3 separate regions of the Homo sapiens genome follow, and all the other regions are linked to region 3. The links come from fine-mapping of genetic effects on gene expression. A gene starts in region 3. Each other region holds a variant in brackets. All regions are shown on one strand. Distances are between the middles of the regions. Region 1 overlaps CACNA1A (calcium voltage-gated channel subunit alpha1 A). Region 2 has its middle 52 kb from the start of IER2. Region 3 holds the start of CACNA1A (calcium voltage-gated channel subunit alpha1 A).

Evidence for each region.
Region 1: its variant is fine-mapped to the expression of CACNA1A in tibial nerve (GTEx, PIP above 0.99).
Region 2: its variant is fine-mapped to the expression of CACNA1A in whole blood (TOPMed, PIP above 0.99).

What each region holds. Positions count from the first base shown.
Region 1 is chr19:13,299,094-13,304,842 of GRCh38, forward strand. CACNA1A (calcium voltage-gated channel subunit alpha1 A) reads right to left here. Exons shown (of 47, transcript NM_001127222.2): 16 at 4,674-4,791; 17 at 4,453-4,520; 18 at 1,457-1,563; 19 at 1-260. Among named protein-coding and RNA genes, the nearest start is that of IER2, 150 kb to the left of the region's middle. The variant C/T (reference allele first, on the strand shown) is at 2,552.
Region 2 is chr19:13,199,245-13,205,119 of GRCh38, forward strand. No RefSeq gene overlaps it. Among named protein-coding and RNA genes, the nearest start is that of IER2, 52 kb to the left of the region's middle. RefSeq lists a silencer at 3,827-4,027. The variant G/T (reference allele first, on the strand shown) is at 2,612.
Region 3 is chr19:13,503,924-13,509,798 of GRCh38, forward strand. CACNA1A (calcium voltage-gated channel subunit alpha1 A) reads right to left here and starts at 2,556. Exons shown (of 47, transcript NM_001127222.2): 1 at 2,009-2,556. The coding sequence starts at 2,301. RefSeq lists an enhancer at 3,598-4,124.

The sequences.
Region 1 (5,749 bases), 200 kb before region 3:
GGTCCACGGTGGGCTCGGCCGCCCGGCTCTTGTTGGTGTTGTTGTTGCGGTTCTCCTGCGGGTCCACCACCAGCGGCCGGTCCAAGTGCGTCTTCATGTCTGGCCGCAGGTGCCGCGTGTAGGCAGCCTTCCAGCGCTCGTCCGGGTCCATTTCGTTATACAGGGCCTCCCGGCTGGCCAGCAAGTTCTGCTTTCGCATCTCACTGGTCCGCTGCTCCCACACGGACTTGGCTGGCTTTTGATTCTTCTGTTGCTCTTTCCTGCAGTGGCATGGTCACAGGACTTAGAGCATTGCTAGGCACTGTAGCTTGGATGGATGACCCAGGCGAACCAACCCACATCTCAGCCTCCCACTCCTGCTCTCCACCCTCTACTCCCCACTGAATGCTAGGAGTCTGTGAGCATCTGAGTCAGGTCCCAGCCTCCTCTGCTCAAGAACCCTCCATGGCTCCCACCTGGCTAGGGGCAAAAGCCCAAGTCCTCCCCCCTGACCCAGAAGGCCCTGTGTAATCTGCTTGTCACCTCCTTGCCTTCACCTCCTCACACTTACTATTCGATTCTAGTCACACAGGCCTCCTTCACATCAGGCATGTTCCTGCCTCAGGGCCATTGCCTATGCTGTTCCCTCTGCCTGGGATGCCCTTCCCCAGGCCCCCCAGTGGCTCCTCCCTCACCTCCTTCAGGCCATGTAACCTTCTAGGTGAGCAGTCCCCAACCTTTTTGGCACCAGGGGCCAGTTTTGTGGAAGACAGTTTTTCCACAGACCTAGGTGTGGGGGGTGGTTTTGGGATGAAACTGTTTCACCTGAGATCATCAGGCATTCGATTCTTAAAAGGAGCACGCAACCTAGATCCCTCAGATGCACCGTTCACAATAGTGTTTGTGTTCCTATGAGAATCTAATGCTGCCTGCTGATCTGACGGCAGGTGGAGCTCAGGCGGTAATGCTTGCTTGCTCACTGTTCACCTCCTGCTGTGCAGCCCCGTTCCTAATAGGCCTCGGCCTGGTACCAGTCCACAGCCCCGGGACTGGGGACCCCTATTCTAGGTGATGCCTTCCCTGACAACTTCGTTTAAAATCACAACTCTCTTCACTCCCAGCATTTGCTATTTCCCTCCCCTACTTTCTCTGTAGTTCCATCGCCTTCTAACACAATATATAATTTACTTATTTATCTAATTTATTGACTCCTTCCCTTGCTAGAATGGCTACACACAGGTGGGATTTTTTTTTTCCTCCTTGTTAATGCTGTATCCCCAGAAGTTAGAACAGTGCTGGGTACATAACAGCTGCTAACCAAATATTTATTGAGTGAAAGTGGGTGGAAGGACAAGAAGTGTCTCTTCCTAAAGCTCAGTTCTGTCAAGGACCACCCCCACTGCTTCCCAAATCTGTGCCTGGGATAGTGTGGACGTTCAGGAGCCAGGGTAGCATCCCAGGGATTAGGGGCACTTACACAGCTATAGACATGTTGGCCGCGGACAGAGGACTCACTTCTGCCACCTCCTTGGCTTTCTGTAGGGCAAGTTTCTGGTTCGCTGCTTCTTCTTCCTCTTGCTCGTCCTAAAAGGCACGTGGAATCTTTGTTCACAAAACATGAACTAGGCCTTGGGGACTCACTTCTGACCCTGTTGCTGACCAGGGGCAACATTTGAAATATTTCGACCAATCAGAACCAAGGCTCCCCAATTGGAATGGGTACCTGCTATTGGTTAAGTGTATTGCTATCCCCTCTGTGTATAAGTTTGACATCTAACTCATTATGAAGCCTATTTTAACACACAGCCAGATAACAAAAAATAAAAATGTCCCTTCTCTTCCTACAATGAAGACTTTCCTGCAGCCTATTTTTTTTTCTTTTGTTTGTTTTCAGAGACAGAGTCTCCCTTGGTTGCCCAGCCTGGAGTGCAGTGGCACAATCATAGCTCACTGTAACCTTGAACTCCTGGGCTCAAGCAATCCTCCCACCTCAGCCTCCCAAGCAACTGGGACTACAGGTGCATGCCACTATGCCTGTATACATTTAATTTTTTTTTTTTTTTTGTAGAGACAGGGTCTCACTATGTTGCCCAGGCTGGTCTTGAACTTCTGGCCTCAAATGATCCTCCCATTTCGGCCTCCCAAAGTGCTGGGATTCCAGGCATGTGCCACCATGCCTGGCCCCTGCATCCTGTCTTAATGAGCTGGAAAGCAGTGCAAAGATTTTCCTCTCACTAGGCTTTCTGAGCCATGTGAACTCTCTGAACCAACTTTCAAAAAACACCAACTACCCTCACACACAGAAGAGCCTGGCATCCGATGGCCCCTGCCATGCACTGTCAACAGCCCCCAGAAGGAGAATGAGGAGAGGAATTTATATTCCCAGCCCCCATGACAGGAAGGCGGTGGGGAGAGGAGAGCAGGGCACTTGGGCTACAGCCAACTGCCCAGGGTGCTGCTGCTCACTGGTGGTTAGGTTCAGAGAGGAGGAGAATGGGGGAAGAGGTTTTAAAAATACATACAGAAAAAGACGTTTTTGGACTTTAAATCCTTCTTCAGCCTTCATGCAGGG[C/T]CTCATTCGTAAAACAGAAAAGCCAACAAAGAAAAAGCAAAGAAAAGGCAACGAGAAAGAAATGGCCAGAAATGAACCCGCCCATAAGAAAAGTCATGCCATTGCAGGCAGCTCTCCCGCTGTGCTCCGAATCACTGGAACGGGGAGCAACCTTACCACCTTGGAAATGGTCAGATCAGGACACTGTCAGAGACAACATGGAGATGGGATCTGGCTGGCCACCCTGCTCTCATAGGGCCACCCCCACCCCTCCTGGCACCATTCCCAGCATTTTTCAGAGCTAGGTCTCTGGACCATCTGCCTCAGAAACACCTAAAATGCAGATCCTCAGGCTCCCCAAATAATCTATAGAACCAGTGCTGGGCCCTGGAATCTGCATTTCCCACAGGTTCCCAAGTGAGCATAAAACATGCCCAAATTCAAGCAACTGGTACACAGCAGTTAAGAGCACAAGCTGCAGACCCAGACGGCCTGGGTTCAAATCCCAGCTCCACAACTTACTGCTGTGTGGCCTTGGGCAAGTCTCTCAACCTCTCTGTGCGACACACATCTCATCTAAAATTCCAACTCTCCCTGACTTTCCCTACTGAATTTTTCTCTGTTGTGTTTATCACCAACTGACAAGCTACGTATGTTTACAAATTTATCTTGTTTCTTGTCTGTCTCCCCTCTTGAATCCCTGCTCCACGGAGGCAGGGATTTTTGCCTTTTTTTGTTCACTGCTTAATCCCTAAGTCCTAGACCAGGGCCTTGGTCACACAGTAGGTGCTCATTAAGTGCTTACTGAATGATGAAATCTGTAAAATGGGGCTCAGAGAACTTGGCTCCTAAGGTTTCCATGAGGACTGAATAGGATTAAAAACACGTATTAAATGACCAAGAAATGCTTGTAGGATCAATGAAAGAAAGAATGTGGATCTGGAGAGGAATGTCCACACCTCCCAGGAGATAAACGAACTGGCCTTTCTCCCTCCCCTTCTGCTACCCTCCTGCACCAGCCCCTAAGGATGGACTCTTGGAACTTGGATGAGCTCATGGCTGGATCAGCCCTCGGCTCAGCCATGCCAGCCAGCTCCACAGTGGCCAGGCTTGTGGCCGTGTGCTTGGGATGGCAGAGACTTCCGCTTCCCTCCACTGGGAGCTGGGGCCGGGAAACTCTCTCTCCCTCCTGCCAGGGCCGGCAGATGGAGCGTTGGCAACGTCTGCTTGGTTTGGTTCAATTTCACAAACATGTCCTGAATACCTCGAGGCACTGGAGGTGGGGCTGCAATGCTGAGGGAGACCCCAGGGCTGAGAGGAAGACCCTGTACCTGTTACATGTAATCTTAACTTAATAGGGTCCTTGGGGAGAGGCTTAGGCTGGACGGAGGCTAGCTCTTAACATGCTGCGTTTGGCTAAGGGGAGGCTCCAGCGGGAAGCCAGAGGAAGAGAGAAGGTGGGGACATTTATTGGCCACTCCATCTGTGCCTTGCCATGGTTCTGGGTTCTCTAAGGTCCCAGGGCTGGTGGCAGCCCTTTTTCCTTGGCCCCAGCTCTGACTGGGTCCCCATAACAGCACTCCCTCTCCCATCCACTAGCCTGGGGGCTACACCATTCCTTGGAAACCCTGCTTACTCCCTGTAAACGGCCTTTTGGTTGAGTTTGCCATCCGTTTCCTGCAGCGACCTCACTGCCTTCCCCCTTCCCACCCTCTTGGCTGTAGAATTTGCTTGATGAGGGACAGTCTGTTTCTGGGAGTGGGGGGAGAGGCGCCTTCTCTTTGCATGGTGCATCCCCGGCAAAAGTTCTAACCCTGTTCCCATGCCCCCACCCCCACCCCCACCCCCACCCCCACCCCCGTCCTGATCTGCCATGGGCAGGTGGTAACTTTGCCAGAGAAACATTCTCCCACCGCCTCCACCTTGGTGAGCTCCTGGGCGTTGGCCAGATTGTCCACAGCGATGGCCAAGAACACATTCAGGAGGGTGTCTGCAAATGTCTGAGTCAGGAAAAGCAACCACTGGTGGGACACCACTTGGGCCCTGGGTATCTGGGTCTCTCAGTACCCTCCCTTGAGCCCCTGCAACCTCTCCTCTGCCAGAGGTCCAGGCCTGTCCCCTTCTCTCTCTCCATGAAGGATACAGTTCCCAAAGAGCGTCAGTACAATGAAATAGATGGAGAACACCATGCCGCCCTGCACGCCCCCCTGAGACTTGATCCCGTCGTACATGACCTCGTTCCAGTCTTCGCCCGTCAGGATCTGAAAGGGGAGGAAGAAACACACAGCCAACCCCCCTCTCAGCCACGGGCCCCTTGGAGATGCAGCTGTGGAGCCGGAATCCGCCCACCCCATCCCCGAGCCCAGGAGGTCTTTAACAATCCTGCCCGGTTTGCAGAGCCAGACTCCGTGTTGGCTTCTCCTTGGCTTTTCTCTTTGTTTGCGAGTAGAAAGGGCCGTTCCTGCGTCGTGGGGCTCTTAGCCTGGCTTCTAGGAAAATGGGACCCTGGAGGAGTCACAGACCCTCCTGTAACTCTGTCTTACTTGATGTGATTAAGGGGATTTGTTATGGACTAAATTGTGCCCGCCTCCAAATTCATGAGTTGAAGCCCTAACCTATGATGGGATGGTATTTGGAGATGGGGCCTTTAAGAGGTAACTAGGGTTAGATGAGGTCATGGGGGACTTCATGATGGTATTAGTGCCCTTATAAGAACAGGAAGAGACCGCATGCCATGGCTCATGCCTGTAATCCCAGCACTTTGGGAGGCCAAGGTGGGAGGATCACTTGAGCCCAGGAGTTCAAGATTAGCCTGGGCAATATAGCAAGACCCCATCTTTACAAAAAATTTAAAAAAATTAGCTGGTGCCCATCTGTAGTCCCAGCTACTCAAGGGGCTGAGGTGGGAGGATCGTTTGAACCTAGGAGTTTGAGGCTGCAGTGAGCTATGATTGTGCCACTGCACTCCAGGCTGGGTGACAAAAAAATGTGATTTGCCTAAAAAAAAAATAGATTTTTTTTTGAGATTTTTGTCTCAAAAAAAAAAAAAAAAAAAGAACAGGAAGAAACATCACAACTCTCTCTCTCTCTCTTTGACATATGAGGACACAGCAAGAAGGTGGCTATCTGCAAGCTAGGAAGAGGGCCCTCACCAGGAACTAACTAACCCTGCTAACACTTTGATCTTGGACTTCCCGGCCTCCAGAACTATGAGAGAAT
Region 2 (5,875 bases), 300 kb before region 3:
TATAACAAAATATCGTAGACTGGGGGATTCATGAACGACAGAAACGTGTAGCTCACATTTCTGGAGGCAGGGAAGTCCAAGGATAGGATTTTTTTTTTTTTTTTTGAGACGGAGTTTTGCTCTTGTTGCCCAGGCTAGTGTGCAGTGGCGCAATGTTGGCTCACTGCAACCTCCACCTTCCAGTCTCAAGTGATTCTCCTGCCTCAGCCTCCCAAGTCACTGGGATTACAGGCGCCCACCACCATGCTCAGGTATTTTTTTTTGTATTTTTAGTAGAGACGGGGTTTCACCATGTTGGTCAGGCTGGTCTCGAACTGCTGACCTTGTGATCCACCTGCCTCGGCCTCCTAGAGTGCTGGGATTACAGGCTTGAGCCACCACGCCCAGCCCTGACTTTTTTTTTTTTTGAGACAGAGGTTCGCTCTTGTTGCCCAGGCTGGAGGGCGATGATGCGATCTTGGCTCACTGCAGCCTCCGTCTCCCAGGTTCAAGCGATTCTCTTGTCTCAGCCTCCTGAGTAGCTGGGACTACAGGTGTCTGCCACAATGCCTGGTTATTTATTTATTTATTTTTGTATTTTTAGTAGAGAAGGGGTTTCTCCATGTTGGCCATGCTGGTCTTGAACTCCTGATCTCAGGTGATCCGCCTGCCTCGGCCTCCCAGAGTGCTGGGATTATGTGTGTAAACCACTGTGCCCAGCCAAATGTCTGCTATTGTAAGCCACCCAGCCTGTGATAATTTATTACAGCAGCCACAGGAAGAGACTAATACAACTCCTATTTCTTTAATTTTTTATTTTATTTTATTTTTTTGAGACGGAGTTTCCCTCTGTCTCCCAGGCTGGAGTGCAGTGGCATGATCTCGGCTCACTACGACCTCCGCTTCCCAGGTTCAAGCCAATTCTCCTGCCTCAGCCTCCTGAGTAGCTGGGATTACAGGTGCCCGCTACCACACCTGGCTGATTTTTGTATTTTTAGTAGAGATGGGGTTTCATCATGTTGTCCAGGCTGGTCTTGAACTCCTGACCTCAGGTGATGCACCCACCTCGGCCTCCCGAAGTGCTGGGATTACAGGCATGAGCCACCATGCCTGGCCCAACTCCTATTTCTTTAATTTTTTTTTGAGATGGGTTCTTGCTAGGTTGCCCAGTCTGCTCTCAAACTCCTGGGCTCAAGTGATCCTCTCGCCTTAGCCTTAGCTGGGACTACAGGTGCTTGCTACCACACCTGACTTCTTTAATTTTTTTTTTTTTTTTTTTTTTTTGAGATGATGCCTTGCTCTATCTCCCAGACTGGAGGCTCTGTCACCCAGGCTGGAGTGCAGTGGTGCAATCTTGTCTCACTGCAACCTCTGCCTCCCGTGTTCAAGCGATTCTCCTGCCTCAGTCTCCTGAGTAGGTGGGATTACAGGCACCCGCTGCCACACCTGGCTAATTTCTGTATTTTTTAGTAGAGACGGGGTTTCACCATGTTGGCTAGGCTGGTCTCGAACTCCTGACCTTGTGATCTACCTGCCTCGGCCTCCCAAAGTGCTGGGATTACAGGCATCAGCCACTGCGCCTGGCCACTTTTTTTTTTTTTTTAACTTGAAACATTTTATCTTTTTTTTTTTTTTTGAGATAGGGTTTCGCTCTGTCACCCAGGCTGGAGTACAGTGGTGTGATGACAGCTCACTGAAGCTTCAACCTCCTGGGCTCAGGTGATCCTCCCACCTCAGCCTCCCAAAATATTGGATTATAGGCATGAGCCACTGCACCTGGCCTGTTTTATCACTTCTTTTAAATTTTTTTTTTGAGAAAGAGCCTTGCTCCGTCACCCAGGCTGGAGTACAGTGGTGCGATCTCGGCTCACTGCAACCTCCGCCTCCCGGGTTCAAGCGATTGTCCTGCCTCAGCCTCCCGAGTAGCTGGGATTACAGGCATGCACCACCACACCCAGCTAACTTTGTATTTTTAGTAGAGATGGGGTTTCTCCACGTTGGTCAGGCTGGTCTGGAACTCCCGACCTCAGGTGATCTGCTCGCCTCGGCCTTCCAAAGTGCTGGGATTATAGGCGTGAGCCTCTGTGCCTGGCCCAGTTTTTTAAATTTATTTATTTTTTTGAGACAGAGCCTCTCTCCATCGCCCAGGCTGGAGTGCAGTGGTGTGATCTTGGCTCACTGCAACCTCCAGGGTTCAAGTGATTCTCCTGCCTTGGCCTCCTGAGTAGCTGGGACTACAGGTGCACGCCACCTCCCCTGTCTAATTTTTGTACAGTAGAGACGGGGTTTTGCCATGTTGGCCAGGCTGTTCTCAAACTCCTGACCTCCATGATCTGCCTGCCTCAGGCTTCCAAAGTGCTGGGATTACAGGCGTGAGCCACCGTGCCCGGCCCTGTTTTATCACTTTAATCATTGGTATCTGTAAGAGACTGGCTTTGCTGGGCTGGTGGGGCTTTCTCCAATGCACAGTGAAATAAATGCAGCTTCCTGGCTGGGTGTCCTGACCCCATCCTCTCTGCTTCCGGGTATTTCCCTAAAGTTGAGCCTTCACCCCAGCGTTGCCCTGAGTTCCTGAGGCTGGGGTTCCAGTCCTGGAAGCTGGGGTGCTCTGGCTGGGCCCCCTGCACAGTCT[G/T]GGCTCTCTCACAAGTCCTCCAGCAGAGCGATGTCACCCTTCCACGTCCCCACCCCAGTTCTCTGACGGCAGCTGAAGGGGATCAGGATATGTTACTCTTAAAAATATATCACTTAGAGACCGGGCACAGTGACTCACGCCTGTAATCCAGCACTCTGGGAGGTGGAGGTGAGTGGATCATTTGAGCTCGGGAGTTCGAGACCAGCCTGGGCAACATGGCAAAACTCCATCTCTACCAAAAATACAAAAAATTCACCAGGCATATGGTGGCATCCACCTGTGGTCCCAGCTACTTGGGAGGCTGAGGTGGGAGGATGGCTCGAGGCTGCGAGGCTGAGGTTGCAGTGAGCCGAGATTGCACCACTGCCCTCCAGCCTGGGTGACAGAGCAAGACCCTGTCTCAAACAAACAAACAAACAATCTATTATCTATCTATCTATCTATCTATCTATCTATCTATCTATCTATGTATCTATCTATGTATCTATCTATCAACTTTAGCATAAGAATTATTCTGAGCTGAATGCAATAGAAAATCAGTAGATGGCCAGGCGCGGTGGCTGACGCCTATAATCCCAGCACTTTGGGAGGCCGAGGTGGGTGGATCACCTGAGGTCAGGAGTTGGAGACCATCCTGGCCAATATGGTGAAACCTTGTCTCTACTGAAAATATAAAAAATTAGCTGGGCATGGTGGTGGGAACCTATAGTCCCAGCTACTCGGGAGGCTGAGGCACAAGAATCCCTTGAACCTGGGAGGTGGAGGTTGCAGTGAGTCGAGATCCTGACACTACAATCCAGCCTGGGCAACAGAGCGAGACTCTGTCTCAAAAAAAAAAAAAAAAAAAAAAAATCAGTAGAGGCAGAAAGAATTCTCTGCTCTCTACTTTTCTGCCTCAAAGCCAGGCATAAACTTCTCTTTAAGAAGGTGACATAAGGCTGGGCGTGGTGGCTCACTCCTGTAATCCCAGCACTTTGGGAGGCCGAGGCGGGCAGATCACAAGGTCAGGAGATCAAGACCATCCTGGCTAACACGGTGAAACCCTGTCTCTACTAAAAATACAAAAAAATTAGCTGGGCATGGTGGCGGGCACCTATAGTTCCAGCTACTCAGGAGGCTGAGGCAGGAGAATGGCGTGATCCCAGGAGGCAGAGCTTGCAGTGAGCCAAGATTGCACCACTGCACTCCAGCCTGGGCAACAGAGTGCGACTCCGTTTCAAAAAAAAAGGTGACATAAATTTTCCTTTGTGGAGGTATCCCCCCGTCTCCTTACCAGGGAGAGCAGAATGACTCCTATCACTGCAGATAGTCAGTCCCAAGATGAGTCTACATAAACAAACCTTCCTAAAATAACTCTCTGTCTCCCTCTCTCTCTTTTTTTTTTGGAACAGGGTTTTGCTCTGTCACCCAGGCTGGAGTGCAGTGGTGTGATCATAGGTCACTGATGCCTTGACCTCCTGGGTTCAAGTGATCCTCCTACCTCAGCCTCCCAAGTAGCTGAGACCACAGGCATGCACCGCCATGCCGGGCTAACTTTTGTATTATTTATTTATTTATTTTTTGAGACGGAGTTTCGCTTTTGTTGCCCAGGCTGGAGCGCAATGGCATGATCTCGGCTCACTGCAACCTCCACCTCCCAGGTTCAAGTGATTCTCCTGCCTCAGCCTCCCGAGTAGCTGGGATTATAGGCATGCGCCACTACGCCCGGCTAATTTTGCATTTTTAGTAGAGATGGGGTTTTTCCATGTTGGCCAGGCTGTTCTCGAACTCCCGACCTCAGGTGATCCGCCCACCTCGGCCTCCCAAAGTGCTGGGATTACAGGCGTGAGCCACCACGCCTGGCCAATTTTTGTATTTTTTGTAGGAATGGGGTTTCACCATGTTGCCCAGGCTGGTCTCGAACTCCTGGGCTCAAGTGATCCTCCTGCCTCAGCCTCTCGAGTAGCTGGGACCACAGGCATGTACCACTACACTCTGCTTTTTTTTATTTTTAGTAGAGACAAGGTCTTGCCATGTTGCCCAGGCTGGTCTCGAACTCCTGAGCTCAAGCAGTCCACCCACCTTGGCCTCCCAAAGTGCTGGGGTTACAGGCGTGAGACACCGCGCCCGGCCAATGCCTGGGCTTTTGCACCTCAGGGCATTTCTTTTTCTTTTTTTTCTTGAGTCTCGCTCTGTTGCCCAGGCTGGAGTGCAGTGGCATGATCTCGGCTCACTGCAGGCTCTGCCTCCCGGGTTCACGCCATTCTCCTGCCTCAGCCTCCTGAGTAGCTGGGACTACAGGCGCCTGCCACTATGCCCGGCTGATTTTTTGTATTTTTAGCAGAGACGGGGTTTCACCGTGTTAGCCAGGATGGTCTTGATCTCCTGACCTCATGATCTGCCCGCCTCGGCCTCCCAAAGTGCTGGGATTACAGGCTTGAGCCACCGCGCCCGGTCACCTCAGGGCATTTCTATGACAATCATGCCCTTCCAACCTTCCAGGTGATGAGGCTCAAGCAATGGCCTGAGAGTATGTGAGACTGGGGACTAGGCCAAGCTCCGCCCCTCTTCCTCATCCCCTGATCTTCCCACCCTGTGTCTCCTGGGCAACTAACACTCTAGCCTGATGATGTGCACTGTGGAGGCCTTGGGTCTACCTCTTGGCACTCGGGCATAGACTTGGCCTTTGAGTTCAGGGCTCATGGGGGGCTTCGGTAGTGAACTTCATTCCTGGGAGGACAGATGGCTGCAGCCTCATTGACAGCAGAGGGAATTGCACAAACCCTGGCTTACTCCAGTGGCTCCTGGACACACTCAACCCCAGCACCATGGGAGGGGGACCAGAGGCCAGCTCTGCAATGGATGGGCAGCTTGTTTAGAAGCCTGTGGTGGTTGCCAGATTGCCTGGTTAGAAAGTTAAACCCCTCCCTCCCTCCCTTCCATTCCATTTTTTTTTTTTTTTTTTTTTGAGACGTAGTCTCACTCTGTCGCCCAGGCTGCAGTGCAGTGACGCAATCTCAGCTCACTGCAACCTCTGCCTCCCAGGTTCAAGCGATTTTCCTGCCTCAGCCTGCCAAGTATCTGGGAATATAGGCATGCACCACCACACCTGGCTAATTTTTTTATTTTTAGTAGAGACAGGGTTTCACTATGTTGGCCAGGCTGGTCTCAAACTCCTGACTTGGTGATCTGCTCACCTTGGCCTCCCAAAGTGCTGGGATTACAGGCGTGAGCCTCTGTACCCAGCCTTAAAAAAAACAAACTTTTTTTTTTAGAGACAGCGTC
Region 3 (5,875 bases):
GGGGCCACTGCAATCCCCCTCTCCCCCAACAGCCCTCCAATCTGCAGGATTCAGGCTGGACAGAGGTAAGCTAAGGACACAGCAGAAGGGCTCCCCACCTCCTTCCTTTCCTCTTAGAAGTCTCCAAATCCAGGCTCCAGAAGGCGATCTAAAGCCATTTTCAATGAGGAAACCTGTCAGCCGAGCAAAGCCCTCTCACTCCTGGAGCTAACTGGGTGTGCACCCATGAATACCCTGTCCTCCTGCAAGGCACTCCCACTCCTCACTCTGTTGATAGGCAGAGTAATCAAGCCACCCCTGAGCACTTCAATGGGCCTGGGATGGTGAGGAATTGCTAACCTTAAGAACCAGCCTCTTTAAGAGTCTGAAACTTAGGAAGCAAAGACCTGGCACCTGCTTTGGGCACCAACGGAGATGGCATCGTAGTTAGAGGTATGCTCCCCTCAAAAGCACCTCTGCTGAACTTCTTAATTTTCCCCACCCTCAAAGTAGACCACTCACACACTCCAAAACCTCAGTGCCCTCTGTTGCAATCCCAGCACCCAGGATCCAAGCGCCAGGCTCGATTTTGAACCCCCCTGAAGTGAGTCCCTCTACCACCCGCCATGCTCCTCAAACAGCAACCCCCGGAGACCACACAGGGCCCAGCCCCGTTTAGTCTATAACTGCAAAACCACATACAAAAGGGATAGGGGACTCATCGCTGAGCCCCAGGGACCCATCCAGCCCGTTCATTTTTACACAGAGGGCAGCTGGTTGGAACTGTGCGGAGAAGCGGCACATCTGGGCATGGCACAGTGGCCAGCCAGCCTGGGCAGCAGGGTGTGTCCCCCCTCCTGGAATCTGGGTCATGCTTAGATAACTGCTAGAAAGCCCGACTAATTACCCACCCTTGCCTGCCTACATCTCGATAGATGTTAAGCCCTCCTCAAGGTTTATTTCAAGCAGGCAGGGATTTAAAGAAACACAGAAGATCTGCATTTTGATAGCATCTCCACAGAAGAAAATGTGGGCTTCACCTTTTTCCTCTGGATCTTTGATTAAAAAAAAAAAAATTTAAAAGGCATTTACCTACCTAAGATGTCCACATGGGTGCTGATTCTCCTGGTGTTCCCTCTCGGCTACTCGGGGTAGGAAAAGCTGGACATGGTGCTCTAAAATGGACCCACCACCTCATTTGCTGTTGCCCTGTCTTTCTTACTGAAAGTGTCCAGATCAGGTCTTCCCAGGCCAGGGGCCCAGATAAAGCAAGTGGGATCTCTTTCTCGACACCCCCAAAGATGATGAGGTTCCCCAATCAGCGGTTAAAGGCAATGGGACCTGCACACATGAGGGAAACATAAGCGCCCCCCAGCCCATCACTATCCTCTCCAGATAGGAACAGCGGCCCACCCTGGGGTACTCACTTCGGCCAGTGCTGGCTTCTCAGTGTGAAGGCCACATGGACTCCCTCTTGCTCTTAGCCCTGGGAGCCCCCAAGCGCCCTGCCCTAAAAGTGCGGCGGCCCCCCACCTTGGGGAAAGCAGTAGTGGAGAGGCTGTCCAGCTTCCCCTGCGTGGACTCCAGTGAGCGACGGCCAAGAAAACCCAACCAAGGCCCCCATAGTTCCCCTGCCCTGGCCAGAAGCGCCCAGGCCCGAGCCCGCTCCAAGCTCACTCCGTAGAACTCCAAACCCTCCGGACTTGGCTCGAAAGCCCCCACCAAGGCTCCTGCACGACCCCAGGCCCCAGATCTCATTCTAGAGTCGGTCCTTGGGAAGGATCCACTCTCCGCTGCCCACCCCCCAGCCCCCCACAAACCCATTCCCAAGCCTCCAGGGTAGCTCAACCCAGCTCGGGGTGGAGAGATTCTTTCACACTCCTCCCGGTGCCCCCTCTCCCAGCCCCTGGAAGACCCCCCTCCTCCCCACCTCCCATCAACCCCCGGGTCTCTCTCCCAGCCTGGAAGAGGGGAGGCGGAGGGAGGAGGGGGAGGCGCAGCTGCTGCTGGGGTTCGGGCAAAAGGATATGGCCATTCGGTGATCTTTTTGGCGTATTTTCTCACCACGTTGTCTTCGCTGAAGAGGAAGAGAGACCGGTTAACCGTGAGGCAGTTCTGTCGGACGGGGATGGGGTTGTAGAGTGCCATGGTCCGCGCTCTCTGCGCCATTGACTGCTTGTACATCCTTTGCGCCCCGGGCTGCCCGCCCTGCCGGCTGCCCCCGGCTCCTCGCCCGCCTCCGCTGCCCACGACCACCCCGGCGGCTGCCCCGGAGCCTCCTCCCCCGTAGCGGGCCGGCATCTCGTCTCCGAAGCGGGCCATTCTGCAAAGAGCAAAGGGCTCCGGGTTACGCTGCGGCGAACGATGCGGAAGACGCCGCCGCCGCCGCCGCCGCCGCTGATGCTGAGGCTGCCGGGGCTGGGAGCGCGGCGGCTGGAGCTACGACTGCGGAGACGCTCCACGGCCCAGCCCATCGGGCGGCGGCGGCTCGGCGCCTCGGGTCGGGGGCTCAGAAGGCGGCTGCCCGGGCCGAGCCGGGGATAGCAGCTCGGGACATCTTCCTGGCTGACCCCGGAGAAGGAGGGGCGGGAGGAGGGTGCGGGGGCGGGGCGCGGGGGCCCGGGGAGGAGGGGGGAGGGGAGAGAGAAGCGAGGCAAAAAATAACCGAGGAAGGAATCCAGGCAATCCCCAGTCCACCCACTCCGGAAAAAAAAAAAAAGAGACAGTTAAAAAAAAAAAATCCACCCAACGCACACCCCCTTTAAGACGCGAACGGTTTGCAAAGGACGCCCCCCCCGGGACGCAGTGGAAGCTTCAAATTCCTCCGAGGTCCGGGTCAGGCTGGCATCTTGCAAAAGGAGTGCGCTCGGCCCATTAAAAAAAAATAAAAAATAAAAAATAAAAAAATATATATATATTTAAAAATAAAGAAAGACGAAACCCAGGTCTGGGTGGGGAGGGCAAAAAAAAAAAAAAAAAAAATTAAGTGCCCTTCTGTTTTGCTGGAGTTCCTAGACCTTAAAAATGCTGAAAGATCTGTAGCTCCAAAAATAAAATAAAATAAAAACAAAGAAGATGAAAGGGAAGGGAAAGAGGAGGGAAGGGGAGTAAGACGCTCCAGAGGGTTCCTAAGGAGTCTTCACACCGCAGGGTCCAGGTTTAAAAAAAAAAAAAAAAATTTTTTTTCTTCCTGAATCACCAACGGCTGCCTCTTCTGCTCCCGGAGGAAGTGTGAGTGTGTATGTGCGCACAGCGTTTCGCTCAATGGTGCCTCATCTTGGGGTTAAATTGCAGCAGTGAAATCCTGAAAATTCCCAACAGGGGGAAAAGAGAGAGAGAGAGAGGTATGCGCCCTCCGCTTAGCCACTCAATAGCTGCCCCTGGATGCGGCAATGCCTCTCCACCCTCCAAATCCCTCCACCTCCTCCTTCTCTAGGTTTTGCTAAAATAAGACTGGTGTGGAGGGTTGCGGGTAGAAGAAGGTAAAGAGGAAAAAAAAATGGGCGCAAAGGTCTGAACCACTGGCCAGCAAACGGAAAAGGGGAGCAATTGATGAGTTTAACAGTAGAAGGACCCACCCAGAGTGTCGACACATGAGGGCCCGCGACCAATCGTGGAGGCTCGTGGAGGCGCGGGGGTACCGGGCTCAGCGGAGTTTGTGGGGGAGAGAGGGGAGCGTCGCATGGTTGGGAGGCAGGGAGGGGGGAATTGGGGTGCTTCCTCCTCCCCTGGGAGGAAAGCCTGTTTTCCACCCCGTTCCATTTCGGTTGCAGACAGCCGGACGCTCCCCAGCATCTTGCAAGGAGAAGGCAGGATGGAGGCAGGAAAAAAACTTAAAAGACAGAAAAGAGAAGGGGATTTGTGTCTAGAGGTGCGATTCGTCAGTCTCTAAACAAATTTGCTCTGTTTAGCAAAAGACCATTTTTGAAAGTGGAGAGAGTGGTTTGGGGTTACTTCTGTGAACGTTTCAAATCACAAGGACTCCTGCAAGTTGGAATTAAAGGTTTATTCTACCTTGGAGACCCCAGAGGTGACAAGTCTGAACTCCCAGGAGGAAATAATTAACCAGGTCCTAGTTGGCTGGATAGGGGTTCTGGGTGGTATAGTTTGCTTGATACTCACGTCTCTCCAGAACCACTTTGATTACTTCCCATTCTGCTTTTTGTGTGGTGAAATTCAATAAGCACAAAGAAAAATGCATAAAACATAAAGGTACGGAGTTAAGAAATTGGTCTGAAATGAACACTCATGAAATCAAGTCTAGGGCTAGAAATGGAACATCACCACCTCTGCAGAACCCCCTTTGCCAACACGCTTACACAGCCCCTTATTCCAGCAATAATCGCTACCTGACTTTATGGTATTCATATCTTGCTTTTTTAAAAAAAGTTTGACTACCTTATTATGCGTTCCTAACCAATACAATTTTACTTTGCTTCTTTTGGGCTTTTATATAAATGGAATAATCATATAGTATATATTCTACAGTTTCTTGTTTCTTCGGTTCAACATTATGTCTTTAAGATTCATCTGGCAGGGCACGGTGTCTGCGCCTGTAATCCCAGCACTTTGGGAGGCAGAGCATGAGGATTGCTTGAGGCCAGGGGTTTGAGACAAGCCTGGGCAATATAGCAAGACCCTGTCTCTCCAAAAACCTTTTTTAAAATAAAAATTAACCAGGCATGGTGATGTGAACCTAGTCCCAGCTACTTAGGAGGCTGAGATGGGAAGATCCCTTGAGTCCAGGATGTTGCAGTGAGCCAAGATCAAACCACTGCCCTCCAGCCTGGGCAACAAAGTGAGACTCTGTCAAACAAAACAAAACAAAACAAAAACAAACAAACAAAAAAAACAAGATTCATACATCCTAATCTGTTTCGAATTTTAGAAAAATTCACCTGTTTGTTGTCACACATGGCTGTGATTCATTCACTTTCACTGCTGTATAGTATTTCATCAAGAGAATATGCCACAATTTGTTTATCCATCATCTTGTTGATGGGTATCTGTTTTTTTTCCAGTTGGGGCTATTAAACATTACTGCCTCAGGTACCTTTGGTGCAGATAAGAATGCATGTCTCTAGGAATAGCCTTAGGTGTGGAATGTCTGGGTCCACAAGGTATTCATATCTTCAAGCTTATAAGATGTCATCAAACTGTCTTGCAAATTCAATGTACCAAGAAACCATTGAATTTTCATGGAGCTTGTATACGCAGAAAGGCCAAATGGAGAGGAATGGGAAAAGGATGAAAAAGGCAAATATTCTTTCAAGCCTTAGCTAGTTAAATCCTAGTTAATTCCCTTCCCCCCTCGCCACCCCACACACACATATCAATATTCGAGTTCTTTTGGAACACTCTGGAAAGATGATATGTCTTTATATAAAGTCCCCGTTCTGTGCCAATGCACCAACTATTATACATTGCCCCATAGCACTTTCAAGATTTTCTAACTTGTCACGATATGGATGAAATGATTAAACCAAGAGTGATTGGAATTGCAAGGAGATAGAATTGTGTGGGATTCAGGGAGAAGGAGGGGCTTTTAAGGCGCTCACCAAATATCAGTGATTTTTGTACTTGACATTGTTTCAGATATAAAAGGTGAACAGCAACTAATATGAAACAAGAAGCGAGCCCATGTGTTCAGATGGGAAGAACCAGTCATATGAGAGGAGCTGAGTTGAACTTATCATTTGTTCTGATGGACCTCTCTGAGAAGATTATTCAGTTTTAGAGCAGGAGCATTACCTGCATAGATCTGTGAAGACCCCAGAGTTTTTCAGGAAAGAGTGACATCTCACTGATGGAGCTCCTGCCAGGGTAAATCTCCCACTGAGTCTTCACAGCAGCCCCGTGGAACAGATGCAAACACTGAGGGTGAGGGAGACTTAAA